Homo sapiens: one gene and its partners. The protein of the gene in region 4 purifies or fractionates together with the protein of the main gene of each other region. This does not show direct contact. Each region holds a gene or a part of one and is shown on either strand. Other genes may lie near its edges. The genes, in order: NAP1L4, LRRTM3, KATNIP and CEP78.

Region 1 (7,593 bases), on a different chromosome or scaffold from region 4:
CCTTGTGATCCACCCACCTCGGCCTCCCAAAGTGCTGGGATTACAGGCGTGAGCCACCGCGCCCGGCCACACACGGTTACTTCTTTAAGAACACTTACACAGAGCGTGTCTGAGATCCAACTTGCGGGCACCATGGAAGAGTGGGCATCATGGAAGAGCGTACAATTCTTATCTGTGTCTGTATCATTTTACAAGTGATATTTCTTTAAACTCATTTTGCCAATACCTGTCAGCTTAGAAAGTCCCAGTGAGGAAAGTCAGAAGAGGAGTGGGAAGACCTGAATCCTCAGAAACACGCACTGGCAGCAGGCACTTCATTTGTAACATGGCAGTCACTTCTTTACCCCCAAAGTCTGGGCACTGAATCTCAAAATGTCTTGAAGTTGCATTAAGTTTTTCTTAAATCATTTTTTCTCTTTTTTAGTTGTATGTAATAATTGTACTATTTATGGGACACAGTGACATTTTGATGCACGTACACAATGTGTAATAAATCAGGACCATCACCTCAAACATTTATTTTTGAACATTCAAAACCCGTCCTCTAGCTTTCTGAAAACACGCACTAAATTATCGTTAGCCACATTCACCCTACAGTGCTACAACACACCAGAACTTACTCCTCCAATCTAGCAGTCACTCTGTATCTGATAACAGACCTCTCCCTATTTATCCTCCCCTCTCTCTCCCTCTTAGCCTTTATCAACAATTCTCTGCTTCGGTGAGCTGTTTTTGTAGCTCCCACATGAGTGTGAACGTGAGGTATTTCCCCCCTTTCTGTGCCTGATTTTCCGTTGAGTCCTAATTTTCAACTCTTCTGACATAAAACAAAACAAAAACAGCAACAAAAAGATACCTGCAAGTATCTAGACAAAAAGTAACCCAAAGGCAGTTGTGAAATGGGCCACACCTGCATGCGATGTTCAGTCTCCAATGCTGCGCGTGCCACCCACAGAAGCATGCGCTGGCTCTAGATCACCAAGATGAGCACTTCCACCAGCATGCTTTCCAGAGATGGCACTGGGACTTCAAACTCATCCCACTCAAAGACGCAGTGCCCACTCATGTTTTCCCAAACTTCATAAAATAACCATTATGTTCTAATTTCCTCAAGCAGCCATGTACCCTGTGGGTCAAAACTTTAAATGTCCAGGGCAAATATTAAGGTAATGCCCCACACTGGCAGACGCTCAGACTCAGGAAGCAAAGGCACAACACTGGAGGCATCGCACTCAGATCGTAAAGCCACCATCTCAAATTTTCCACTCTCCTTGCAGAAATATATTTCAACTATCCCCAAATTTAGAACAAAGGGACTCAGAGTTAATCCGCCTTTGGAATTTAATATTTGACCAAAATGAGCTGGGCATAGTGGCGCATATCTACAGTCCCAGCTACTCGAGAGGACCCCTTGAGGCCAGGAGACTGAGACAGCAGTGTCCTGACTGTGCCTATGAAAAGCCACTGACCTCTAGGCTGGGCATCATAGCAAGACCATGTCCCTTAAAAATGAAAGGGCTTCTCTCAGAAATGGCAGACTTCAAAACCAGACATTAAAAAACAACTGTTGGCCGGGCACGGTGGCTCACGCCTGTAATCCCAGCACTTTGGGAGGCCAAGGCAGGCGGATGATGAGGTCAGCAGATCGAGACCATCCTGGCTAACACAGTGAAACCCCGTCTCTACTAAAAATAAAAAAATTAGCCAGGCGTGGTGGCGGATGCCTGTAGTCCCAGCTACTCGGGAGGCTGAGGCAGGAGAATGGCGTGAACCCAGGAGGTGGAGCTTACAGTGAGCCAAGATCACGCCACTGCACTCCAGCCTGGGCGACAGAGCGAGACTCCGTTAAAAAAAAAAAAAAAAGAAAATATTGTTAAAAAAAAAAATCAAAATAGAATATGCTACCATTACCTGCTATGAGGTTACAAACAGTACAAATAACATTTCCTCATTCTCTGCATATTAAATGAGTACTCTATCAACCCCTGCATATCTTTTTAAAGCTGTTAAAACAAAAAGCAACAAAAGACACTTCATGGCTGAAATGCTGAAGCACTGACACTACTACAGAGGTGCTGGGAGAATGAGAAGGGACACCCCATTTAAAATGTGGCCAAATGCCTCACTGTGCTCTCAAAACCCAAGGCAGCACTATCCATGGCCAGTGACCCCAATGCCATAACCAGGTGGCCACACGCACAGAAGGGGACACCAAAACTCACTCAAGTCACCTAACTCTAGCTCCCAAACCCTGTTATCACTGCACCCCCAATCCCACGTGAAGATGCTCCAACCCTGCAGTGCAAGAATCACCCCAGGGCCCATGAGCCAGACAGCCCCACAGAACCAGAATCCGCACTGCCATGGCCACTCCCCATGCCCCCCGAAGTCTGAGAAGAACGAACTAAGAGCTAGTCTTTCCACCTGCTCCCTGCCATGGAGATTTTCAACTCTCAGGGTGCACATTAGAGTTCCTAAAACCAACTCAAAACTCTCAGTGCCATGGTGACAGATGAGGCATTTAGTTTTTGCTATTTAGTTTTCAAAGCTGCTCAGGTGATTGTAATACACAGGGTGAGACTACGGCTCTGGTAGACATTACTTAATTTTTCCAATGAAATTCTGGTGCATGGCATTCTTTTAAAAGTATGGTCTAGTCTTCTTAAATTCCACCTTTTCATATGAAAAGGAAGCTCAGATCAGGAAAAACCAAGGCTGTTCTATTTTAGATGCTTTCTGGTCTGGAAGGAGAATAAGAAATACATCATTCTTTCCATCTTTTCTCAAGTTTTGGCTTAGGACACAGGACAAGCATTAAACAAGGGAGGTAGCAGAGGCAGCAATGTGATACATTTGTGAAAACCATTAAAAACCGTAGCTGTAAAATCCTGTGCAAATTACAATGTAGCAGTTTGCAACGCACAGTGCCTATGCTCTGTGATGGGAGAAGCACTCTGCCCACACAAGCAGAGCCTGCAGCTGTCCTGAGCAAGTCTGAATGCAGACGTGCTGTTTCTGGGGACGCTGGAGCAATAAAAACTGACGGCAAGTCAGTCAGTGAGACTTAAGGCAAGATTTGTTTCTCTGTTCTAGAAACTTCTATTATAACTCATTTCAGGGAAAACCAAATTTGTTACCTTTTAATTTGTTCACCATTTCACTACAGAAAGTGAAATGTCAAGGCAAGACAAAATCAGAAATGGTGGTTGGGTTTTGTTGTTGTGTTGTTTTTTTTTTTTTTTTTTTTTGGAGACAGGGTCTCGTCACCCACCAGGATGGAGTGCAGCACCGTGATCACAGCTCACCACAGCCTCAACCTCCTCGGCTCAGGTGATCCTCCTGCCTCAGCCTCCCAAGTACCTGGGACCACAGGCGCACACCACAACGCCCAGCTAACTTTTCTATTTTTTGTAGAGATGGGATTTCGCGATGCTGCCCAGGCTGGTCTCAAACGATCTGCCTACCTTGACCTCCCAAAGTGCTGGGACTACAGACATGAGCCACCATGCCTGGCCTCTTTTTTTAAAAAAAATAGACACTTTTTCAAGAGAAATGATCAGAAAATATTAGCAACTTGTTCAAAAATTCACTGAGATGTGTGTGTACACACACACACACAAACAAACACACAGCTCATCCCTTCAAAATTCATTCTGCTCTGGTCTCCTGCCCTCACCCTTTCCTGCACACTCACACCACAGGAAGACAGAGATGGGCTCTGGAATCTATTCATAGGCTTTCCCACAGGCAAGACAACAGAGCTTTACAAGAGGTAAAAGGAACTGATTTGAAAGTTTTGGATCAGGCTGAAGCGCCCAGCTTTCCACCAAGAACTGCAAAAGACAGCATGGAAGCCCCACTGTGAATAAACCATTCACTGTGAGATCAGGACTGCTCATCTGAGGTCCTGGTCAGAGAAAGTGCCCTTCCGCCCACTATGAACAATCTTTCAATGCCCAGTGTAGTGCTTAAAAAATGCCATAGATAAGTAATGTTAGAAGACTAGCACATAATCTCTCTACAAGACAGAAGTGTGCTTACCTGGACTAATTCACTCAGCATGTCCACATTTCTGAAGATGGTAAACCAGAACTCTGGAATTCCTTTGGGATCTGGCTCTTCAGCCGTTGCCGCTGCTTTTTCTGTGACGACTACTTTACTTTTCATGTCTCCCTAAAAAAAAGATGCAACATAGGTAACGAAAATAAAAGTTTACAAACAATGCAGCGGCTTCACGTAGAATATCGTTGCCGAATCCTCTACTATCTCCCATCAAACACCTTGCTTTCTAAGTCTGCACCTCCAAACCACTCACTGGGCCACGCGACACTTTTCAGATGCTTCTGAGGAAAAAGCATTCAAGTCATTACATCCACACGGAATTCCGTACCATTTCACATCAAAGGCGAAGAAACTAAAGAGATGACAAAGTGCCACCGACGCTGGGAAAGGCCATCCAGTGCTAGCTCTGTGAGGTGCCATCCTGAGACAATCATCATCACAAATGCAGATGCAAAGACTGTACATCAACCTTAAGGAGATGCAATGCAAATATGCAGAACATCTAGCACTGGGCAAAAAAAGTCCAGTGCAAGGATAAAGAAGTTCACTTGGACTAATAATCTGACCTCTTGTTAAAATTTGTGGGGTGCTAAGTTGAAATAAAAAAAAAAAAAATTGCCGCAGCAGTATCTGCAGCAAGAAAGTGCTCAGCAACTTATCCAGCTTGTAAGGAAGTGGCTATAAATGCCAGCTCAGACACCACGCAAGCATCAGAAAGTGACCAGAAAGGCCACATGGCAAAAGGAAGGGGAGTCAGGCCCCAGGGAAAAGGTAGACCAAGGGAGGTGAAACGCAACACCAGATGCAACTATGGGAAATTCTGAATGCCTTGCCAAACGGGATTGTTATGATGAAATGATCTTGAAATGAAAGGCCTTTTAAATCAGCAAAGGCAGATTTCCCTTGAGCTGTTAGAAACTGATTCACAACTGTATTAATCCACAGCCATGGCTTCAATTAGGCCAGGTTCTATATATTTTTAAAGCATCAAAAACACATATGGCTACCAAAATCATCATATACCACCCCCCCCCCAAAAAAAAAACTGCAAAAAGTTAGTTATAGGATAAAAGTTACTTGTCTCCCAAACATAAAATCAGGCTGACAAAGTTAATCCATGGTACACTGGGAGTTTTCACAGCACTGGAATGGGACCAGTCACTAGAAAAAGGCTGTGAGCAGGTGACTGATGGCCACACCACAACCACCATCTGCAACCAATCCACTGGCGGAGCACCTCTCAGGGGGCAAGCTAGTCCATGCCACTGAGCAGGAAGGCACTCCCCTCACAACTCCCCCAATCTTCCAGTGACTGAGAACACAGGGGCATCTCTTCTTCATCTTTGCTTTCTCTGATGTTTTAATCTTTGTTGGTCTGATCCCTTATTTCAATATGCTCCTGTCCACAGATAACTGAGGTGGCACTACATCTTACTCCTATTAACTGACAGTACTGTGTCAGATGCTAGATCCATATCAGAAAGGAATCTAAACCCAACCTAATGATGCAGCAGCACCTACTGTTAGAAGCACATAAGTTTACTAGTCATTAAAAATCATTAAAAAATGCTTATTTTTAACAGTATTAAAACAGAACATGAGTCACATGTTTCTAAAGACTTACAGCCAATTTCTCTTCCTCTTCATTTTCACTGTGCCATTCCGATTCCGCATCTGTTGGTTCAACATCGCCGGTGATAAATTCTCTTCTCTACATAAAAATGAGACCTTATTAGAATTATGTTATTAGCTTACTTAGGAACTCAAGAGTTAAATTTATAAATAATGTCTACTAAAAGACTTTGAAAACTGGATATTTTTATAACTTATTTTAAGATTCTAAATTTTAGGGTTCAAAGAAAAATATTAAATGATTCCCTGGGTAAACCTGGATGTTTCACCTAAAGATGTAAAATAAAGACAGTCCCCGATTTCCAATGGTTCAGCTAAAGATTTTCAACTTCCTGATGGTGCAGAAGCCATCACACTTTGGGCACCAATACAGCCACACTGTGTTCCTCTCTCTGTGTAGGGTTCAATACATTACGCGAGATACTCAGCACTTTATTATAAAATAGGCTTTGTGGAAGATGATTTTGCCTGACTGCAGGCTAATGTTAGCGTTCTGAGCTTGTTTAAGGTAGTCTAGACTAAGCTATGTTTGGCAGGTTAGATGCGTTCTTACCCTAGATGTTGTCAACTTATAATGGGTTTATCGGAACCTAACACCTTCGTAAGCTGAAAACTATCTGTATATTAAATTAACAGAGCTCCCTACCTTGTCAAAGAGAGGCTGGTATAGCGCTGCATACTTTCTTTCCAAGTCATGTACCTCTTCATAGAACTTGGCTTCTATGTGAGCACATCTCACCTGAAGTTGTTTCAATGCATTAATTCTTCTTTTTACTGCTTTAGGTAAACTAAAAAAGGGAGTAAGAAATACAACATCCTCATGCCTGCAAAATAAAGCAGCATGCTTTTCAATTTTATTAAAATAAATTTAGGTTAACATGGAATCAACATCCTTACTATGAACAAGACCTCTTAAAAATTAAGAAAAGGACAATACCCCAACAGGAAAAAAAGGATACAGGAGGAAGCAGAAAAAATAATTCACAAAAGAAAAAACACAAATTGTCAAACATGAAGAAAGATTCAATTTCATAAAATATCCAAAAGAATGCAAACATTTAAGAACACTCAGCTTTTCCTTACCAAATTGGCAATTAAAAACCAAAACAAAACACCCAGGTTTTACGAGGCTAAGGGCCAAGAAGCCCTCTAACTGACTCATCTTTCTGAAGGGCAGAAATATTGAAAATGTTCTTTGGACCCAGTAATTCTATTTCTAAGAATTTATCCTTAAGGCTGGGCGCAGTGGCTCATGCCTGTAATCCCACCACTCTGGGAGGCCAAGGTAGGATTGCTTGAGGGCAGGACTCCAAGACCAGCCTGAGCAATACAGCAAGACCTCTCTCTACAAAAAAATTTTAAAAAATTAGCAAGGCATGATGGTGTGCGCCTGTAGTCCCAGCTACTCAGGAGGCTGAGGTGGGAGGATCACTTGAGTCTGTGAGGTCAAGGCAGCAGGGAGCTATGATTGCGCTACTGCACTCCAGCCTGGGAAACAGAGCAAGACCCTATCTTACCAAAAGGAAAAAAAAAAATTTATCCTAATCAAGTATTTATGCTGGAGTGTCCGTCGATAGATCTGTACAAGTGAAAAACTGGACAATGCAAGTGCAACAGCATTCAAATATGGCCTATTCATAATCACACTGTCCAGGAATATTTAGTGCCACGTGGGAATCCACACTTGTTAACACACTGGAGGAAAAAATCTGAGAAACACAGACCACAGGCAACACAACTTTGTCCTGGAGAGTCAGGTCAACTATGAGTTTGCCTTTCAATTCTGTTCTATGTTTTAAAAAATAGTTGTTATGTATAACTTTTATAAATCAGAAGAAAAATCCTTGTTTAACCCATCAAAACTATTTGTTCAAAACGAAGCCCCTGGTCACAATCATG
Region 2 (7,593 bases), on a different chromosome or scaffold from region 4:
AAAATGGTATATTGTGAATCTCAGAAATTACAGGAGATACCCTCAAGTATATCTGCTGGTTGCTTAGGTTTGTCCCTTCGCTATAACAGCCTTCAAAAACTTAAGTATAATCAATTTAAAGGGCTCAACCAGCTCACCTGGCTATACCTTGACCATAACCATATCAGCAATATTGACGAAAATGCTTTTAATGGAATACGCAGACTCAAAGAGCTGATTCTTAGTTCCAATAGAATCTCCTATTTTCTTAACAATACCTTCAGACCTGTGACAAATTTACGGAACTTGGATCTGTCCTATAATCAGCTGCATTCTCTGGGATCTGAACAGTTTCGGGGCTTGCGGAAGCTGCTGAGTTTACATTTACGGTCTAACTCCCTGAGAACCATCCCTGTGCGAATATTCCAAGACTGCCGCAACCTGGAACTTTTGGACCTGGGATATAACCGGATCCGAAGTTTAGCCAGGAATGTCTTTGCTGGCATGATCAGACTCAAAGAACTTCACCTGGAGCACAATCAATTTTCCAAGCTCAACCTGGCCCTTTTTCCAAGGTTGGTCAGCCTTCAGAACCTTTACTTGCAGTGGAATAAAATCAGTGTCATAGGACAGACCATGTCCTGGACCTGGAGCTCCTTACAAAGGCTTGATTTATCAGGCAATGAGATCGAAGCTTTCAGTGGACCCAGTGTTTTCCAGTGTGTCCCGAATCTGCAGCGCCTCAACCTGGATTCCAACAAGCTCACATTTATTGGTCAAGAGATTTTGGATTCTTGGATATCCCTCAATGACATCAGTCTTGCTGGGAATATATGGGAATGCAGCAGAAATATTTGCTCCCTTGTAAACTGGCTGAAAAGTTTTAAAGGTCTAAGGGAGAATACAATTATCTGTGCCAGTCCCAAAGAGCTGCAAGGAGTAAATGTGATCGATGCAGTGAAGAACTACAGCATCTGTGGCAAAAGTACTACAGAGAGGTTTGATCTGGCCAGGGCTCTCCCAAAGCCGACGTTTAAGCCCAAGCTCCCCAGGCCGAAGCATGAGAGCAAACCCCCTTTGCCCCCGACGGTGGGAGCCACAGAGCCCGGCCCAGAGACCGATGCTGACGCCGAGCACATCTCTTTCCATAAAATCATCGCGGGCAGCGTGGCGCTTTTCCTGTCCGTGCTCGTCATCCTGCTGGTTATCTACGTGTCATGGAAGCGGTACCCTGCGAGCATGAAGCAGCTGCAGCAGCGCTCCCTCATGCGAAGGCACAGGAAAAAGAAAAGACAGTCCCTAAAGCAAATGACTCCCAGCACCCAGGAATTTTATGTAGATTATAAACCCACCAACACGGAGACCAGCGAGATGCTGCTGAATGGGACGGGACCCTGCACCTATAACAAATCGGGCTCCAGGGAGTGTGAGGTATGAACCATTGTGATAAAAAGAGCTCTTAAAAGCTGGGAAATAAGTGGTGCTTTATTGAACTCTGGTGACTATCAAGGGAACGCGATGCCCCCCCTCCCCTTCCCTCTCCCTCTCACTTTGCTGGCAAGATCCTTCCTTGTCCGTTTTAGTGCATTCATAATACTGGTCATTTTCCTCTCATACATAATCAACCCATTGAAATTTAAATACCACAATCAATGTGAAGCTTGAACTCCGGTTTAATATAATACCTATTGTATAAGACCCTTTACTGATTCCATTAATGTCGCATTTGTTTTAAGATAAAACTTCTTTCATAAGTAATCCCCCACATTCGCTGTTAGCCTCCTGGTGGGACCAAATCTACAGTTATAGAAGGTTTGCACCTCACTGGCAAATCAAGGAAAGAGGTGAATGATTCCAGGTGCTCGGAGCTTGAGCTGATTCTTGGAGATGACTCAGTTATGGGAACATTTTACAGACAGGCAGAGCCTTTAAACCAATGCCTGACTTAGAAAAGAAAATTGCAGGAAACTATCAAAAGATGGTGCTAGGTTAAAGCAGCACCCTGAGCAGTTTCCAGAGGTGTCTGAATTACAGTAAGGCAAGCACAGGGACAAAGTGATGAAGGGTTAAAATACTGCAAGCAGACAACTGCAAAATGTGAGGAGATGACAAAAATGTAAAGTTTTCGACTCAGCCTTGTCTCTGAAACCCATCTCTGTAAAATCAGACTAGAGGTTTCACTGCCAATTTCTTCTAGCCTGTATGTTTCATAAATAAATAAATGAAACAGCATTGAGAAGCCAGATTTCTCCACCACACCTCACATTAGTTAGGGAGTTTTCAGATAAGGTTCGCGAATGGGAAAGCAGCTTGCTACAGGCATGTGGTTGAGAGCTTACCAGAATTTCTCTTTCCAGTTTTTTCGAAGACCCTAATGTAGTTAGTAGAATCCTTAGCTCTGTCCTGTTCTGTTCAGAATTTGTCAGGCTGCCCTGTTGTGTTCCATTACATGTCCTGCACACACCAGTCCCCTAATGACAGACACTTCATTCAGATGTGTAAAGAGAACACATTCCAAGACGTGCCTTCCACCCACAGCCTCATTGAAAAGGACGACTTTGATAACACCTTAATAAATGTATAAAACGAATCTTAGAGGAAAAAAGACCAACACTATGACAGTTCTCTGTTGCTTTTCTATTGCTGACATTACAATGTCCCTGCGTTCATCTGTATTGTGAACTCATCCATCAGTACAGTTCTGTACAGACCCTGTTGGCAATCTGCAAGCTGCATGCATGTTTTTATGTCATTGGTGAAAGTTTATTGACTGCAGCACGAATATCATAGCTTCCATATTTGAGTAACTTGAACCACAGTCAATTAAGGTTTTTAGAAAGATATATTTAGTCTGTATTCTCCTTCATCCTCCAAAATGAACAGTTCTATTATAGAAGCAAATATCAGGAACTGCAACATTGAGGCTGTTTCATTTAATTTGGCTTGCCAACCCCTACATCTTTAACCATGTCCCTCTTCTCTGAAAACAGAATCACTGCAGCAACAAAGAAAAAGTGAATGGCTATTTTTACTAATTTTTTTTTATTGTTTGGGGGTTTTTCATATGCTGAGAGGAAAAATCTAGGCAAGTCACCATAAAATAAAATTTTAAGGATGCCAGATCATTAAAATCATACTTTTATAAGCAATAAAGAAAAAGAAATAGTTAAAGTGGATTTCTCAAGGTACTTTGATATTGATTAAATCTTACAATAGATGCCACTTCAGAAAAACATCTTAGTTACAATGTTTACCCATGAATAATTGTTGAATATACATGTATTCATGACAAAAAGTCACATATTTCCAATGGATTAATAATGCAGATACTTCCTCACAGCTTACTGGATGACTGAGCTTATTGTGATTTTTTTACTGAAGTTGTAACTTTACATTTTTCATAAAGCATCAGTAAATACATATTCCATCTTAAAAAGAAATTTTCTTTGGCTAGCCTCATTTTTATCTGTACTAAAGATGTTTGTATTAATGAAATGCAGTCTTAAAGTGAAGAACCCCATTTCTATTCTTTTTCACTTAACCTTCTGCCTTACTTGTGATGGATACCAAATATATTTAGGCAAGGAATACTTATATTTTTGAATTATTGCAAATTCTCAATGCCATGGTGCTACTAGTATATATAAAATATGCTTGCTGTATTGAAAAGCATTCCTAAAATTCAAAGCTACTTGGAATATAAAATATGATATAACACTAAATGAATCACCAATATTTTGAAAGCTGTCACTTTTTAATGCCTAACTTTACTAATAAACATAATAATAGATAAGAACGAAAATAAAATCCCTTAGGTGGTAAAACTCATTTTGATTTGGGACATGAAATTATGGGAAAAAAGTTCTTTCTTTCTCCTCACTCTTTGAGAATGAATCTTCTGTAATTCTCAGTATCTTCTGAGCACAGATATATAATTCTTGTAGATTTAATAACTAGTTTACCACTGTAAATTTTAAAACGCCAACTGCCAGTCTCCTGCTCAAAAGTTGTTGCCTCACCTCCATCCCATGGTACTTTCTGGACTACATATCATAAATCTATTTGTATAAGTATTTCAAGTTCATGCAGATTAGAGAAATGTGATTGATATTTATTTTTCTAGTACGTATTTACATAAAATATTGGACTTCCCTCAAAGGTGACAACAGTTAAAAAAAAAAAAAAAAAAAGCCTGACCTGTTGAACTATACAACAGAACACAGAATACTTTGCTTTACCAAAACAGAGAAGAAATGGGATTTAGTCTCTAAACTTCATGTGAGTTTTTTTCCATTTTTATTAACCCCAGTACACATAGTGCTACCACAGCATGTAGTTAAATAGTCCCAGTGCCACAGTCTTGTAAGCAATACTTATGCAAGATATATTGCATTGAAATGAGTTTGTATTTTCCAAGGACGTTGACATTACATCTTTTCAAAGAATTTAAACAATTTTTTACTTGATTTGGTGAGTGAACTACCTAAGTAGACAGGCAGTAAATTGTCTTTCTATGGAGCAGCAGTGACCTCTAGTGTCTGGTTAGACTAACCACAGCTATTCACACATTTTAGCTTTTTATCCTGAATCCTTATGTAAACGTGGTTTACAACATGTTTTTTGACTAGTAAATCAGATTTGAATTTTATTTAATTCATTTCCTTGGGAAATATAATTATAATGTAATTTTTGAATGTTATACTTTTCATTTTGACTTTTATAGTAATGCTGGAACAGAGGCCATAGAATTGGTACTGAAGGCTAGAAATAAGTGTCCAAGATGAAAAGCGAGTAATAACGCAATAAGAATAGATAAGAAATATTTTAGAGTGCTTATACTCATCGATGCTGGCTAAGCATTTTGATATTTTTATTAAAGGGGTTAATATTTTTCATCAGCAAGATACATGTAATTTAGGTAGGAAAAACAAATTTTAATATTATATCAAAAGAGTCAGCATCAGTCATTTACTGGTCAGGGATATGTCAAAGGTGTCAAAGGAGGGGGGCCTCCCCTTCCGGCTTTAGAACTCTCCAGTTTGCTGATTGTGCCAGTGACCTGTGCTTTGCCTCAGCGCTTTCTCCCTCCCTCCCCCTTTTCAGCCAGCTGAACACTGGTTCTATTAGGCTCTCTGACAATGATGTTACAGTCTAAGAGGTGATGATTCATGGATAATGAAATTATGCTCTCCTTCTGGGGAAGGATAATGCAGAGTCAGATTCATGGATTTGGCAAGAGGTTTTAGGATGCTGTAGGTGCATGAAATATCTCTTCTTCCCTTGACATTTACCAAAATGAGAACTCAAATCGTTTATTTAAAGTGTGGATTAGACTGCATCAGAAACAAGCATCAGGTCATGAAGCCTGAGATAAAGTGAGTTCCAGACATGGCAAGTAAGAATCGAGCCATGAGAAATAAAAAATTCAGAATCTGTGTTGCTTCATCTATTCCTTTTTGCTCTGGATTCTCATTAGAATCCAGATCTGTAGCTAACCCACGGAGTTTTGCTATTGTTGTATTCTCCTAGCTACCTACACTAAAAATCAGAGGCAGTTGGGGGAAACAATGAGCACAACAGAATATATAGGTAAATTTGAATGACACAAGTTTTAAGAGAAATAAAATGGATGGATGTTAAATAGTTTGTATCAAATAGCTCTAATTAAAAATGAATTAAAGAAATAATAATAATACATAGGTGAAAGTCACTGCTTTCCTAATCATAATAGCCTACAGAATTGGACCCAAATTCTTTTAGCCTCCAAAAGTTGGTGATGATTTTGGATACTTAATACTACCAATAAAATCTAAATAACAATAATTTATGATTCTTTTGCATTTGAGGGAAATATCACAGCCAGGCATGGTAGAATACGGGCCTTAGAAATTAAGACCTAAATTCAAGTTCCTTTGACACTTGCTAATCAAGTCATCACAGGTACATTTCCTGGCTTTTCTGAATTTGAAGTTTCTCATATGTAACACAGATGTGTACTATTGACTGCTCATGGTAATTGGGAGGACGAAATGTGAAAAGTACTTTGTAAACTCTAAAATGGCAACTACCTCTTCTTTTCAAAAAGCCCTTAGTGAGATACTGAGTGGGGTTTGTTGTTCTATGTTTGGCATGAGCCAAAAAGAAATCAGTAACCTCCATGTTACAGAACCCCAAGCCCATTTTACATCATTAGAAGTCTAGAACATCGTCTTTGACTTTCTGTTTTCACATAGGCACAGCTTCTTCCACCTCATGTTATCTAAGTCTATGATTTTTATACTGATTATCACAATGTACAACAGACATAAAGACACCGACCAGCGAACACTAAAACAAATAATTATCAAACACATTGAAAATTCTACTTGTATTTCAGATCAGGCAACTATAGCAAGGGCTTTCAATCAGGACGTTTACCTGTCCACTCCCTTTCTAGTATCATTGTGTTCAATCCTTGTTGACTTTACACTGGATCAATATAATGTTTATATGGCAACATGACATCATTATTGAGCAAAAAGTAATTGCATATAACATGTTACTGTAGGATTAGCACGCATTCCAGGTATCAGTCACATGATATCTGCTCTGATGTTTCTCCCCTGGCCACTCCAGTGGAAGACTGTGCCCAAGATCTCCTCTTAGTATAGAAATTACTATTGACTTTATCAATTATAATTATTGAAAAATCACTGGATAAAAAGGGGTATAAATGTACAGGGACTTCCTTTTATATGTCATTGCTTATGCAAAATTACATCATTAATTCATCAAAGAATGACAAAAGGCTTCCTCCGCTGGATGTAGCTGCTCTTACCAATATGAAGTAGCAGGTGTATTTTCAAAATGTTTGTCATTTAAGAAGACACAGACTGTTCCTCTTTGACAGCTGAGTTCCTATGGCATATCTAAAGATCAGAGAGAGGATGATGGTTTTTCAGGTGGGGAAGCAGTTGTGAGTTTTCTGACATTTTAACTTCATAGGGTCATGAATGGACGCTCTTGAGTTAGGGATCCTGAACACGTGAGGAAAATTCCAGGAACACAGAGAGAACAGGAATATCTGGGACATGATATAAGACCAAGCAAGTACAATGTATTTTACAATTATACTTTCTAACAACAGAACTTCTATAAGCAATAATAATCCATTTTATTGAAAAAAAAGAAAAACAGCTTCTATCTTATCCTTTCCAGCAAATGTTGTAATGATAATTAATAACTTTATTAACAATTCTCCATGTTTTCTTTTTATTTTTAAGGGCTCTCACTTCTCCCAATCAGGATTCTCATTTATCCTTTCTCTCACTCTTAAATTGTTCTCCTTATTTGAAAGAGTCTGTAATTCCTATATCACCAAAAAATGTCTTCCTTTATAAACCAACACAATTCAGTCATTTGGCTCAAAAGAGCAGCATTATCTCCAAAAGAAAAGTTACACACTTGCATTAAATATTAGGACATAAAACAAATTTAAAGCTGGCTGACACTTCTCTTTCCTCTACAATCTATAAAACACCTCTACAGTATATTATGATTTGCAATTGAAAAAACAGGATATATAGTTGAATTACAGTCTTACAAAGTATTAAAGCTTACTGTTTTCCTCCTTAA
Region 3 (7,593 bases), on a different chromosome or scaffold from region 4:
CTGGCTTCATGCCAATTAGAGGGGCTGGGATGATGATGCCCAAGTCGGGCTGCTCTTTGGAGCTTACCTCTGCTGGCTGGCTGGTCGTCCCCATGACTACTGCTGCCAGCATCCTTCCTTGAGCCCCTCCTCCCACTAGCAGGGCGCTCTCTGTTGGGGGGCTGGTTAAAGATGTCTGAGTCATCACTGTGGACTTTGGTGGTTGCCCTCTGGGGTCTCTCCTTGGTGTTGACACTCCGGCTGGTCCCCCACCCTGGCTCATGCCGTAGGCCTTTATCCCTGGCCTCGGTCTCTCCAGGACCCTCACCGATGACATCGTCTGATGGGAGCCTGCCCTTCCAGGCCAGGGGCTTCTCGGGACTAAGCCAGAGGGGTTTTGGCTTCCTGCCTCCCTGCTTCCTGTCCTTGCCGGTGGGAGAAGGTTGTAACCAGGATGGGGTTTTCCCGGGTGGCTCACAGATTTTTCTGCCCATGAGGTTTTCCAGTTGTTGGATGAGAGAGGGCTCCTCATGGACAGGAGGGCACTTCACAGGTGGGGAAGTGGCAGGAGCACTGGGCATGTCACCCATCGAAGTGGGGACTGCCGACAGTCTCAAATATTCCTCTAACTGGGACAAACTGTCTTTCCTGCAATTAGTAGAATTCTTTCTTTTGCCAGACACATTTCCTTGTGAAGAAAGCTTTGCATCCGCTAATGTTTCAGCTGGCGGTGAGCAACCGAGACCAAGCTCCTTGTCCCCGCTGGCACCAGCCATCTCATGGGTGCCTTTGCTTTCTTCCGAGTGAGCGTTCATGGCCTCCTCTAGTTGCTCGCTCTTCTCGTTCTTCTGGTCAACCAGGATGCTGTGGTCAGCTGGGGCCTCCCTATCTCCTTTGTCTAACTTGCCATTGAAGATGAGGTTTCTGTTGACGTAAAGCTTCACGTTCTTGGCACCAATGTCAAGATCCTGAAACCATAAGATTTAACAAAGTGAAGATGCATAGCATCAGACTGATGTATGAAATTTTGGAAGTCGAAGATACCAAAAAAAGAAAAGAAAATGTGAAATGCTAGAAATGCAAGCTTTTGAAAACCACAGTGCTGGGGGTGTGAAACTAGGCTTGGTCTCATTTCTGTGGGAACCGCTACATACTCTATAAATCAAAGGACTTTCACAAAGAGACGGCCTCAATCGCTGCCTTCGTCATCATTACCTCCTGTCGGGACATTCGTAATAGCCTACTAATGGGTCTCCCTGCTTCCTGTCTCTTGCTACTTTAACTTGGACTTCACATTGCCACCAGAGTTCATTTCCTACCAGAGCAAATCTGTCCAGTCATTCCCCTGTGTGAAATCCTTCATGTTTTTTCACAGCCTATAGCAGTGTTCTTTAAAGTCCAGTTCCTGAGACCATCTGCGTCGAAAAGCCTGGAGTGCTTATAAAACAGCTTTCCTGGCCTCCGTGGGCATCATAATTGGGAGACCGTAAAAGCAGAGGCTGAGACAAGGACTCGGGTGCAAGTCGAGTATTTGGCAGGTGATTCCAAGAGGAAATGGGGAAAGCAAGATAGGGCAGGAAAAAGGAAAAACCCAGTTTTTTTGAGCTGGTCACTGCTGTGGCCAACTGGTGCTCCTTCCCACGGGGGCCCTCTGCGGCACTCCAAGATCTCACTTTCCCCAACCCTAGTCTTCACCTATCTTAAAAATGGCTCCATCATTGAAGCAGTGGCCAAAAACCTCGTGGCCCCCTTGATCCCTCTCTTTCTCACTTGCCCATCCAATCCGCCAGCTGTCCCTCGCCTCTCTCTCCAGAACACTTCCTGGGTCTGACCTCTTTACCTGGAATGTGCTGCTGCCTTCCTTGCCCAGGCCACCAGGGTCTCTACCAGAGACACCACTGCCGCCTCCTAATTGGTCTCTCTGCTTCCACTCTGCGTTGTCTCCTCCAAATCCCTGCACTCACACTTCATTTTCTATGCAGCAGTGAGTTTTTTTTTTTTTAACTGAAATCAGATCATGGGAGTCTTCTGCTTAAATGCATGTCGCAAATGTCTCTCCAAGACTGGGACATTTATCCACTGCTTGTTGAAGGCTGCCCTCAGGGCACTGATGCCCCAACACATGCACGAGCTGAGTGTGCTCCCACGGCAGAGCACCCCACGAGCACCTGAGGCAGGGCACTGTCCACATGCGGGGACTGTCCCATGTTCACGGCAGCTGCAGTTGGAAGGGAGCCAGGAGGATGCCGTGTGAGGACCACTGCCTCAAGGCAGCCTGTAGGTAACTTCTGGACTCAGAACAAGTTCTCCGGATGATTTCTTCACACGACGGGGTGCAGAACCATGCCGATGATGGGATAAATTCCAAAGCTCTCCACATGACATACAGTAACCTTCACAAATGGTCCCCACCTCGCTCTCCTCTCTCACTGCCAGCCTAAATGCCCCTATGTCACGCAGGTTCAACTCTCTTCCTTCCATGCTTAAGATAAAATCACATCTCCTGCTACTGTTTCACTTGTGTCATCCTCTTTACAGCAAAACTCTTTTTCCAGCTTTATCGGGGAATAGAATACACACCCCATACAATAAACTGTGCATATTTAACGGGTACAGCTTGATCAGTTTTAACATGTGTCTACGCCAATGAAGCCATCACACTCAAGAGAACAAACGTACCTATCACCCTAAGGTTTCCTCGTGCCCCTTGGTAACCCCTGTCTCCCCTTCCTCCTTCCCTGGCTCCAGGCAACCACCCACTTATGGTCCCTCCCTATATACTGATCGTCCTTTCTGGAATGTTTACATAAAGGAATCATGTTGCATGTAGTCTTTTTTGCTCGGCTCTTTCAGTCACCATAACTGCTCTGAGATTCACCTGTGTTATGGGAACTGATAGTTCCTTTCCTTTCTACTGCTAAGGAATATTCCATTGCAGGGCCCCCCGCATGATCTGTCCGTCACCCCGTCAGTGAATCTCTGAGTGTCACTGTCCCCGTGGGCTCCTCCTCCCACTACCCCTTGTTCCTCCTCCCGTTGGGCTTCTGCCTCCACCTCCACATGGAACCCACCTGGCCCGGGCACCTGTAACTAGGGTGACGGGCCATCCTAGTTTGTCTGGGACAATTCTGATTTATATCTGTTATCCTGGTGTCATTACTAATGACTCTCAGAAGTGTCTGGTTCCTAAAGTAAATTACAGGGTCCAGCTGACTGCCATACGCAATAGGAATTTCTCCTAGGAGTGGGTGGGTGTGGCGGCTCGGCAGTACTCGGCAGCTTCCCCTCCTTTGCGATGACTTTCCTCCCTGGGGCTTGTGTGGCTCTGCACCCACCTGGCTTTCCTCCTGCCTCGCTGGCTGAGCCTGCCCGACTCCTGGGTTGCTTCCTTTTCTTCGGCTGCACTTTGAACGACTAGGCTGCCCAGGGCTCAGTCCTAGGCCTCCCGAGTGCTCTTCCCTTGCTCTCCAGGTGGTCTCATTCAGGTCCCAGGCTCCCAGTTATTTTCATCTCCAACCCTGACCTCTCCACCAAGCCCCAAGTGACTGCTTGGCCTCTCTTCCTGGATATCTAACAGGAATTCCAATATAAAATGCCCAAAACAGAATGCTCTCTTTTTTTTTTAAGAGACAAGGTCTTGCTCTGTTGCCCAGGCTGGCGTTACAGTGGCTCGATCAGGGTTCACTGCAACCTGAATTTCTGGGCTCAAGTGACCCTCCCATCTCAGCATCCTGGATAGCTGGGACTACAGGTACACGTCACCACGACCAGCTAATTAAAATAAATTTTTTTTTGTAGAGACGGGGTCTCACTATGTTGTCCAGGCTGGTCTTGAGCCCCTGGGCTCAAGGGATCCTCCTGCCTTGGCCTCCCAAAGTGCTGGGATTACAGGTGTGAGTCAATGTGCCTGGTGTGCCTGAAACAGAATTCTGAAATCACTTTCTCCACACTTAGTCTTAAACTATCTTAAAAATGGGTCCATCATTCGAGCGGTTGCTAAAAAGCTTGCCGTCCCCTCGTCCCCTCTCACTTTCTCACTCATATCCAGTATGTGGGCACGTCCCTCGGCTCTCTCTCCAGAACACGCCCTGGAGCTGACCTCCTTGCCCGCGTGTGCTGCTGCCTGGGCCACCAGGGTCTCCCCCAGAGACACCACCATCGCCTCCTAGTTGGTCTCTCTGCCTCCACTCTGGGCTGTCTCCCCCAAACCCTGCACTCACTTCATTTTCCACACAGCAGTGAGTCTTTTTTTAACAACTGAAATCAGATCATGGGAGCCTCCTGCTTAAAGCTGCCCAGTGACTTCCTATGGCACTGACAAGAAATCCTACTCCCCTTCAGGGGTGCCTGCTGACCTCTCTGACTCCGGCTCCTGGCGCTTGCCTCGATTCCTTGATGTGGCTCAGCCTGTTCCTCCTGCCTTAGAGCCTGTGCACTTGCCTGGCGTGTTCTGCCGCAGATGCCCACAGCCTTGCTCCTTCTTCTGTTCAGGACCTTCAGTGAACACACCTCTAGGGCAGCCCCACCTCATCGGTCCCCTCTTTATCTTATTGCCCTGTTTTATTTCCTTTTAGTCTCTGAATGGTCTTGCTTATCAGCTTTTAACTTATTTATTGTTTTTCCCACTCAAAGTTAGGCTCCAAGACAGCTGAAGCCCTGCCCGTCTTGTCCAAGGGCACATTGTAGCCACCCAACAATTATTTTTGGGCCAGGCGCAGTGGCTCATGCTTGTAATCCCAACACTTTGGTAGGCCGAGGTGGATGGATCACCTGAGGTCAGGAGTTCGAGACCAGTCTGGCCAACATGATGAAACCCCGTCTCTACTAAAAATACAAAAATTAGCCAGGCATGATGGCGTGAGCCTGTAATCCCAGCTACTCGGGAGGCTGAGGCAGGAGAATCACTTGAACCTGGGAGGGGGAGGTTGCAGTGAGCTGAGATCGTGCCATTGTACTCCAGCCTGGGTGACGACAGTGAAGCTCCGTCTCAAAATAAATAAATAAATTACTTTGGAATAGCAAATGAATAAACATGGGTTTTCTCTCCTGAACAGCACTGCTGTCTCAACAGTGCTCTAAGAATGAACCTGATCAGAAAAGCGGCGGCCTGTGGGTTTCACCTCCAGATCGTTTATTTCCCGTGTTGCCTTGGCTTCTGATCTGCTCTTGGGAGACAGAATCTGAGACCCTGGAGATGTTCACCTATACTAACCCCTTCTTAGCCTTCCTGAAAGCTAGGTGAGTAGGAGCTAACAAATTTCAGGATCACTGAGTTACAGAGGTTTCCGCAGCAATTTAGAAGGAGAACTGTCCGGCCTGCGTTACGCCACAGGAACTCGGCTTCAATCCTCCAATTGCAGATGGCAGGCTACCATTTGCCGACTGTCAGAAAAGTCGATTCTCAAAGCACTCTTTTACCTGCTTATATGGATGGATTCTCTGTTTAGCAGAGGCACAGAGCAAGTGCGTGCTGTGAATTCACCGGGGAACAGCTATTTGAGAAGGACAGCATGGGCAGTTTTCAATGACTGGTTCTGCAAAATTACTGCCACAGGGATATCTGGTGAGACAGAAACACCTTCCTTTAAAGAGGTAGTGGGTGATGGGGAAACCATCTAGTCCAGCACAGTCACAAGGTGGGCATCCTAGCTTTCCTAATAGGGTGGCCGGCTTCCACAACATGGCCACCCATCTTCCTTCCCCAGTCCAGAGCCCATCTGACCTCCAGCCCTGTTCCCACCAAGACGTCTGGCGGAGAGGGAACTGAGAGAGGGAAGCAGGCGGAGGCAGGGGTCAGGCTTGTAAGAGAGGAGTGGGCTCAGGTGGAAATCAGTGGTATGCAGGGGTCACAGGGAGGTGGGAGGGTCGTACCCTGCCTGGCAGCTCTGAGCTCTGAAAGGTTTCCAGCACTCTGCAGGCCAAACAAGCCACATTCATGGGCAGATGTGGCCCAAGGATCACCAGAGTGGGGTCCCCATAGGGAATATTAGTCACTTCTCTGGATATTCTGTTTAAAGGATAACAGACTGCCTTGTCCTATGTCATCCTCAGAACAATCCTGCAAGGGAAGCATTAGGGCCCCATCTTATGGATGGAGAAACTGAGGCACATGCCTTCCCCAAGGTCACACAGCTGGTATGTGGTAAGCCACTATGGCTGGCATGCTAAGGTCTTAACCACCATCTTTCTGTGGGTCAAGCTAGATTCCAAGAAAGCCACAGTCCTGGCCCATGCTAGCCTAGCCACTGTTAGGAGCACCTGTACCGGTGGAGCTCTGAGCCCCTACCCTTTTTTAAATTTTTATTTTTATTTTTTGAGACGTCTCTCTCTGTCACCCAGGCTGGAGTGCAGTGGTGTGATCTCAGCTTACTGCAATCTTTGCCTCCCAGGTTCAAGCGATTCTCGTGCCTCAGCCTCCCGAGTAGCTGGGATTACAGGCACGCCACTACGCCCGGCTATTTTTTGTATTTTTAGTAGAGATGGGGTTTCACCATGTTGGCCAGACTGGTCTCAAACTCCTGACCTCAGGTGATCCGTCCACCTCGCCCTCCCAAAGTGCTGGGATTACAGGCATGAACCACTGCACCTGGCCTTTTTTTTTTTTTTTTTTTTTAAATAAGTCCCTATGGGCCAGGCGCAGTGGCTCACACCTGTAATCCCAACACTTTGGGAGGCTGAGGCAGGTGGATCACGAGGTCAGGAATTTGAGACCGCTCTGCAGAGGTGCCAGAAACGCTGTCTCTATTAAAAATACAAAAATTAGCCAGGCGTGGTGGCAGGCACCTATAATCTCAGCTACTGGAGAGGCTGAGGCGGGAGAATTACTTGAAACTAGAAGGCAGAGGTGGCAGTGAGCCGAGATTGTGCCACTGTACTCCAGCCTGGGCAAAAGAGGGAAACTCTGTCTCAAAAAAGAAAATAATAATAATAATAATAAATAAGTCCTTATAGACTAACTGTCTCCTACCCCACCCCAGCCCCCACCTCCACCTCCACTGGGTGGTGGGTGTGCGTATGTGTGTGGGTTCCAGTTCTTCAAGACATTTTTCTACATATTTACGTATATACCGCATAAGTGTCATTATACCACAAGGGTGTGCTTAGAGGCTGTATGAGAGTCACATCTGCCCCATGAGGAAAGCAGGATGGAAGATTCTGCGAGTCTGGATTCCTCTGCGCCCCCTCAGTGCAGCTCTGTATAAAGGACATCTTTACGAAAGGATCCAGGGGGAAAATCCTTTCTCTCCTCAAGAACCAGCCTGCTTCCTCCCCCTCCAGTCGTCAGGGCTTTAACCCCAGGCTCTTTCTCCCTTCTTCTGTCTTCTTCCATGAAGTGCACCATGAAATTCCTTCCTGCCGAATGTCTTAACCTTAACCTTTAGAACCCTGTCTCTCTCTCTGCATATGTGTGTGTGTGTGTGTGTGTGTGTGTGTGTGTGTGTGTCCTTCTTGTTTCCTTGGTGTGAATATTTTTTTTCCTTCTTTAACTAGAGTTATTTTTATGCCTTTTGTTCATGCTGCCTCAAACACCCTTTGCAATGGATTTTGAAAAGGACAGTTTGAAACTCTGTGGCTGGTTTGTAGTTAATGGGAACACCTTTCCTGGCCCACATT
Region 4 (7,593 bases):
CATGTTTATAAGCTGAGAGAAAGAGGGAGGGTGTGCGATCTGGGAGAGGAAATGATTATTGATGTATTTAAAAACAACCTGACCACTTGTCGTGTGCCCGGCCCTTTTCTAGGCTCTGGGGTTAGCACCATCTCTTCTGCAAGGACAGTTCAACACATCTGCTTCTGAAAATAAGTCAGATTATTCTCTACATCTCATTCAGGTGCAGGAACTGTTCTGTACCTCTGAATGGACTTTAGTTAACCAAAATAATATCAGGAACCAGGCCAGGTGCGGTGGCTCACACTGGTAATCCTAACACTTTGGGAGGCCAGGAGTTTGTGACTGGCCTGGGCAACATAGTGAGACTCCTGTCTCTACAAAAAGTAAAAAATATTAGCTGGGCTTGGTGGATCTCTTGAGCCCGGGAGGTTGAGGCTGCAGTGAGCCATGATTTTGCCACTGTACTCCAGCCTGGGTGACAGAGCAAGACCCTGTCCATGACCCTCCCCCTACAAAAAATAAAAAAACCAGGAACCAAAATAAATTAAAGATGGGAGGGACCTCAGAGTCAAGGCTAGCCTACTAGATCTTGCCTAATATTTTGCACTGAATGTAAGAAAAATGTATTACAGACCATTCTCGTCAGATATTCTTCACTGAACCTTCTTTATCTCTTGCATCTAGTGGGTCTAGGTTGTAGATTTTAACCTCCTACATATTGCTTGTCCATCCTTAATTACATTTTGCCTGGACTATTGCAGACGCTCCTAGCTAGTTTTGCTGCCGTTGAGCTTGGTTTTTCTCAGTTCATCTGCCTACTTTGGTTCAAGTGATCTTTCAAAAAGGAAAAGACATGCTTAAAGTGGCATGCCCACGCAGGACCAGTGTGTATTGGTTGCTTGTGTTCTGCACAGAGGCACTGAAATCTCAGCTGTGTTCTGTTAAGCCTCCTGGGGTTAGTTGGTCTTGAGGAAGGGGAGCTTTTTCTCATTTCCTTTATCTCTTTGATACTCCAACAGTGAGGCACATTTTTCTAACCTGCTAGGGGTATCCTTAATGTGTCAGTGGTAGCCCTGATCCTCATCACCTGTGAGGTAAAAGTGAACTCTCCTAGGCTTGCTTCTCCCTGCCTCTTTGTAAATTTCTGACTCTTCCGGCTACGGCTCTGGGCTTTAGTCGGATCCACCTGCAGTTTTCCAGTGCCCGGCAGGTGTCAGGCTTAGATGCCTTTGCTCTCGCTGCTCCCTCTGGTTAATGCATCACCCACTCTCACCCCATGTTGTCATTCTCATCTTTCTAGATTCAGCTTCAGGATTATCTTGAAGCCATCCTTTCAGTGCAACTTCTTTGCTTCCATAAGAACCTCTATGTACATAGTTTGGTATATCCCATGTGGCTTGAGTTTACATGTGTCTGTGCTTAAGAGGACTTTAAAGGACATGGCTCATTTCTATGTCTTAGCACAGAGCAGATGTTTTTGAATGATACATTGTATGATTGAAGTCACTAACTTTCTTTTATCTTTGTTTTAGGTTCTGACATGAATAAATTTTGCAGAAGTCGTGTTCCTGCGATAAGATACAAAGATGTGACCTTCCAGTTGTGTAAAGCTCTTAAAGGCTGTTTAAGTATATCAAGTGTGCTAAAGAACCTGGAGCTAAATGGACTAATTCTGAGAGAGAGGGATTTAACTATTCTAGCAAAGGTAAGCTTTGTCTCATTTGGCTTGTAGACATTTGATAGTTGCTTTTAGAGGAAAAAAAACCTCAATAACATTTTTAACTTTTCCCCCTCATTAAAGGGATTGAATAAATCGGCTTCTTTGGTGCACCTGTCTCTTGCAAATTGTCCAATTGGAGATGGAGGTTTAGAAAGTGAGTTTAAATCTCATTTAACTCTTGTCCTATCAGGCTGGTTTCATGTTTCCCTACATGCCATGTTAATTCCTGTCTGTACCTTTTTTCTTACTACTGCCTCATATGCTTGTTCAAACCTTGGTCCAGTCTCAAGTCTACCATGAAAGCTTGGCATGCTGAATGTAATCTGAACTAACTTTACTTAAGTTTGTGTTAAACCACAGACCACACAAATATATACCATCTGGTATTCTCTGTTTTTTGTGTTTGTTCATCTTTTAGAGTTTTTCTTCAAGAAATATTTATGGGAAGGAAATAGCAAAATGTAAAGAGGCCGGGCGTGGTGGCTCACGCCTGTGATCCCAGCAATTTGGGAGGCCGACGTGGGCGGATCATGAGGTCAGGAGATTGAGACTGTCCTGGCTAACATGGTGAAACCCCATCTCTACTAAAAAAATACAAAAAAACTCACCAGGCATGGTGGCGGGTGCCTATAGTCCCAGCCACTCAGGAGGCTGAGGCAGGAGAATGGTGTGAACCTGGGAGGCAGAGGTTGCAGTGAGCCAAGATCACACCACTGCACTCTAGCCTGGGCGATAGAGCAAGACTCCGTCTCAAAAAAAAAAAAATCATCATTACTTTAAATAATTAAAACATATATACAATCAATTTTAATGCACTGTGGTATGTTCCAAAATAGGAAATATAAGCAAAGTGCTGTATAGGAGCATATAAAAGGCTGACAGACTTGGGGGGAAAGGGTTGGGATCATGGAAATAGTCACAGAAGGTGACTGTTCGTTGGGATCCTGAAGTCTTGTGTTCGTTGTGTGAAATAGTGGTCTGGAGGGGTAAGGAAACCTGCATTTCAATTTGAGGGAGCAGAGAGTTAAAAGGCCTCTGTCTTCTATTGTTCTAGTACATTAGGTGCTCTAGTATAACACCTAATAAAATTCTGGGTTTATAGTTGACACTGAATTGTTGGTTAATAACAGATTGAGGTCTGCTCTTGGAAATGAAAATAGGAAGAGTTTTATTTTTTTTATGTTTTTCTTTCAGATGTCTCAAAAAGTATATAGAACTTTACTGTGGTCTGGAGTAAGGTTGCAATATTCAGTCTATTCAATTTTGGCATCTAAATAGAATTGAACTATTGCAATAAACTGGAGTAACTCTTTGTTACTGACTTATTTTAGAATGTACCAATCAGTTGCTTAGGTAGATTGTAAATAGTGATTTTAAGAATACAACTATAAAATAGAAAAGATATAAGAAGAGCAAATAAATCAAGACTGACTAGGTTGTATATGCTCTTCATCTTATTGTATGTGGTTTTTTTTTCCATTTTAGTTATTTGTCAAGGTATAAAGAGCTCTATCACTCTTAAGACAGTCAACTTCACAGGATGTAATCTGACATGGCAGGGAGCAGATCACATGGCCAAGATCTTAAAGGTAACTTTATGTTCCAACTTTCATGAAAATGTGTTATATGATTGCCACACGTTAATATTTTGATACAAGACAGCAGTTATTTTTGTCTTTTGATACATATGGGCATTGCAGTTTTAGTTTTGTTTAAAGAATGTGACCAATTTTCAGCCTGGGGTTCTACCATTTATTAAAGGTAGTATGCTTAATCTTAGAAATAGAAGACCTAAAATATAATAATTAGATTTTTCTGTAAATACAGTTTGTAAAACAGTAATTTTAAAGGTGCCTTAACAACTTTATAGTGGTTATTACTACTGTATTTAGGATAAAATTACATAATAATGTGACATGAAGCCTTTTTAGTAATTTGATGGTGTAGATCGGGGTAGTCAAACTATGGCCTGTGGACCAAATCTAGCCTATCACCTATTTTTGTAAATAAAGTTTTGAAACATAGTCATGCCCATTTGTTTACATATTAACTATTGCTACACCCTACACTAGGAGAGTTGAGTAGTTGCAAAAGAAACTATATGACCCACAAAGCTGAAAATGTTTATTTTGGGGCCTTTACAGCGTAAGCCCACTCTCCGTGGGATAGATAATGGTTACTCATGTGGATTCTGAAGCCAGATGGCCTAGGCTAAAACCCGAGCTCTCTCCCATTTAATAACTTGTGACCATGGGCAAATTAGTTAACCGCTCTGTTCCTCAGTTTTCTTATCCATAAAATGTGTATAATAAGAAAACCTACTGTGTCTGTCATTGTTAGGATTTAATGAACTAATGTGTATAAAATAGTGCCTGGCTATCTAAGTGTTTGCTGTTATTTCCTCTTATTGCTTTTATACAGTTATTATGAATAGCAAATGACACTGACAGTTTTCATTTGACGGAGTCATAGGAGCTTTGAATCTTTTGTTTCAGAATGTAATGAGATTTTTTTTTCTCTTAAAATCAGTGTTTCCTGTTACCGAAATTTACTTTATGGATAAAGAGAAGTGATTATGTCTGTAAGATAATACCTGTGGTTAAAACTCAAACCACCAATTTCCGAAGGCATATCAACCTTGCTTTGTATATTCTAGGCCTCTAAATTTGGTGTGCATACCCTAAGAAATATGTGAGATCCCTTGGGTTAGGAGAAGAAAATATTAACCTCTATATTTTTGTATCATTTAAAAAATACCTATTGTTTCTGTTTGATTTGTAATATACATAAAATATGTATATAGAAATTCCTGTATATAGTTTATTAATAAATAACTTACATGTTAAATGTTTACTTGTGGGATGTCCAGTCAAGTGTTTAGAGACCACTGGAGGACAGAATGATATGATTTAGAGGCTCAGCAATGATAGAATTTAGAACCAGTACCTTCACTTGGCATATAAAGAAAATAAAATTCTTAGAAGTTAACTAAGTTGTCAGTTTACATAAAGCAATCAGTAACAGGTCATTAGTGGTTAGGGTCACATAGCTAGTCAGTGACAGACTAGTATCTGGGTCACTGGACTCCTTACTCAAAATCTACTATTTAATCAGTCTGTCAGATTAACCCACCTGGCATATGTACCTGGTGTGTGTGTAAAGCTCTGATGTAATCAGCTGTACTTAGTTCCTTTTAGTGTTCCTATCTCTTTATCCAAGTGTATTAATTTCATCTTATTAAATCTTTGAAGTATCAGACCATGAGAAGGCATGAAGAAACCTGGGCTGAGAGTCTTCGCTATAGGAGACCTGATCTTGACTGTATGGCTGGCTTAAGACGTATCACACTGAATTGCAACACACTTATTGGTGACCTAGGTGCATGTGCTTTTGCAGACTCTCTCAGTGAGGATTTATGGCTGAGAGGTAAGTTAAATGAACTTGTAAGGTGGAAAATATTGAATTTTTTGATATTAAATATGCTTAACTCTTGGCACAGTAATGTTGTCCGAAGGTTTTTTAAAAAGCCTCTTTTTTCTAATAGGTTTTATTTTGTTTTTAAGCCTTTATAAAAGTTATATATATTCTTTATAGAAAATACCAAGTAACAAAAAAAAAAAAAGTACATATAATCTCAATGCCTAGAGATAAACTGTTCATTTTGGTGTATACACTTTCAGTATTGTTTTTTCCTGCAGATACATTTGTGTGCTTAGAGTTACAAGAACAGAACTATAGTGCACTTACCATTTTGTAACCCTGCTTTTTTTATTTAATGATGTATCATGTAGTACTCTATTATATTGAGGCATAATAGTTTAATTCCCTACTATTTGATATTTAGGCAGTTTGTGCTTTTCCCCTGTTATAAACAACTCTGTAGTAAACTCCTTATGTATACATCTCTGTGTCCATTGAAGTTACTTTTTTTTTTTTTTTTTTTTTTTGAGACAGGGTCTTTCTCTGTTGCCCAGGCTGGAGTGCAATGGTGTAATCATACCGCGCTGTAGCCTTAAACTCCTGGCTCAAGTATCCTCCCACTATACCCTCCGAGTAGCTGGCACTACAGGTGCACACCACCATGCCAGGCTAATTTTTGTGGAGACAGGGTCTTGCTGTGTTGCCCAGGCTAGTTTCAAACTCCTGGGCCCAAACAGTTCTCTTGCCTTGGCCTCCCAAAGTGCTGGGATTCCAGGCATGAGCCACTGTGCCCAGCCTGAAGTTACTCCTGTAGGATAAATTACTAAAGTTGAGTAACTCAGTATAATGTATTTCTTAAAGACTTTTGATGCATGTCACCAAATTGCCTTTCAGAAATGCTGTGCCATATTATAGTCTCATAAATGCTGGATTGTGTCTATTTTAAAACCTTAAACTTTACAAAAATGAGAACTCCCCTGCTTTTTCTTTTTTGATGCAAATGGGATTGGTCTCTGAATTTTACAGCTTTTTTCACTCAGTCTAGCATATCTTAAATCAGTAAGTTTACATTTACCATGTCATTTTTAGTGACTCTTCAGGGTTCCATTATGTTAATATGCAATAGTACACTTGGCTTATCCGTTCCTATTAGATATATAAGCTATTTCCAGTTTTTCATTGTTATAAACAGTACTTTGATACGTGTTGTTGCCCGTGTCTCTTATAATTTCCTTCTGGTAAATTCTTAGAAGGAGAGTTGCTGTGTTAACAGAGTCTGCACATTTTAAAGGTTTTTTTAAAATGTGACCTTCGCCAATCTGATAGAAGCATAATCACATTTAATTGTTTTAGTTTATATTCATTTGATTTACTAGTGAGATTTACTGGCTATTTTTATTAATTTGGCTAGGTGGATAATTACATCCTATGCTCATTCTTCTGCAGCAAGAGTTTGTAAAGGTTTTACCATATTCTATCAGATCCATATATCTGACTTATTTCTGTGTGTCTTGTGGTGTCTTAGTCAGTTAGGGCTTCATAGAATATTCTATATTATATATAGTATATATTATATAACTCCATTATAGAAGCATATAACAGAATTATATTCTGGGTGGCTTAAAGAGAAGACATTCATTTCTCACAGTTCTGGAGTCCGAGAAGCCCAAGATCCAGATGCCAGTAGATAGGTGTCAGGTGAGGGCATTCTCCCTAGCTTATGGAAGGCTTTTATATCCTTAAATGGTGGCGAGAGAGAACTCTAGTCTCTTTTTTTTCTTGTAAGGACACTAATCCCATGATGGCTCCACTCTCAAGACCTCAACTAAACCTAATTACCTCTCAAAGGCCCCAATTCCTAATACTACTACCCTGTTGTGGATTAGGGTTTCAATATACATTTTTGGGGAATACAGACATGTAGTCCATAAAATGAGATTCTGAAAGACTTCAGTTATTTTAATGTAATGGTATACACGTGCTTTTGCTCTGATGTAATCTTTTTTTATGCCTGTACTTTTGTGATAATCCTTTTGAGTTGAAATGAGTAGATTGTTCAGCCTCAGTATTACTAGTATTCATGAGCATTTGTTTAGTTCTTTGACCTTTTACTTGAGAGAGAGTTCTTGACCATTATTTTTTCATGATAGGTTTTTAGTATATAATCTCTATAATCTCTATTCACACATTCTTTGGATTCATTATTTCTATCTCCTTAGAGTTCTTTCTTTGTCATTTTTATTCTAAAACTAACAGTTTACATTTTTGTATTTTCTTTTCACTTTTTTAATGTAATTTTTTGAGAGTCACTTGGAATTTGAATTTGAATTTGATGATGAATCTAGTGCAATTTCTGAGCTCCACCCAGTTTTTGCCTGTGATGTTTACACTGCCACTAGCATCCTTGTTAATTATGAACAAATATTCATTCTGTGATGTTTTATGTAGAGTTATTTTTCAACTCTGTAATT

Evidence for each region.
Region 1: the proteins of CEP78 (region 4) and NAP1L4 purify together in Homo sapiens (affinity purification with mass spectrometry; one large-scale study listed by BioGRID and IntAct). This does not show direct contact.
Region 2: the proteins of CEP78 (region 4) and LRRTM3 purify together in Homo sapiens (co-immunoprecipitation; one large-scale study listed by IntAct). This does not show direct contact.
Region 3: the proteins of CEP78 (region 4) and KATNIP purify together in Homo sapiens (tandem affinity purification; one large-scale study listed by IntAct). This does not show direct contact.

What each region holds. Positions count from the first base shown.
Region 1 is NC_000011.10:2,965,762-2,973,354, forward strand, and holds part of NAP1L4 (nucleosome assembly protein 1-like 4), read right to left. Parts: intron 6,483-7,593; coding exon 6,341-6,482; intron 5,774-6,340; coding exon 5,687-5,773; intron 4,174-5,686; coding exon 4,042-4,173; intron 1-4,041. UniProt on the Homo sapiens protein: Acts as a histone chaperone in nucleosome assembly.
Region 2 is NC_000010.11:66,927,043-66,934,635, forward strand, and holds part of LRRTM3 (leucine-rich repeat transmembrane neuronal protein 3 precursor), read left to right. Parts: coding exon 1-1,410; intron 1,411-7,593. UniProt on the Homo sapiens protein: Exhibits a limited synaptogenic activity in vitro, restricted to excitatory presynaptic differentiation. May play a role in the development and maintenance of the vertebrate nervous system.
Region 3 is NC_000016.10:27,733,395-27,740,987, reverse strand, and holds part of KATNIP (katanin-interacting protein), read right to left. Parts: intron 5,494-7,593; exon of another isoform or gene 5,398-5,493; intron 948-5,397; coding exon 68-947; intron 1-67. UniProt on the Homo sapiens protein: May influence the stability of microtubules (MT), possibly through interaction with the MT-severing katanin complex.
Region 4 is NC_000009.12:78,238,509-78,246,101, forward strand, and holds part of CEP78 (centrosomal protein of 78 kDa), read left to right. Parts: intron 1-1,514; coding exon 1,515-1,687; intron 1,688-1,783; coding exon 1,784-1,856; intron 1,857-3,187; coding exon 3,188-3,291; intron 3,292-4,953; coding exon 4,954-5,128; intron 5,129-7,593. UniProt on the Homo sapiens protein: Centriole wall protein that localizes to mature centrioles and regulates centriole and cilia biogenesis. Involved in centrosome duplication: required for efficient PLK4 centrosomal localization and PLK4-induced overduplication of centrioles.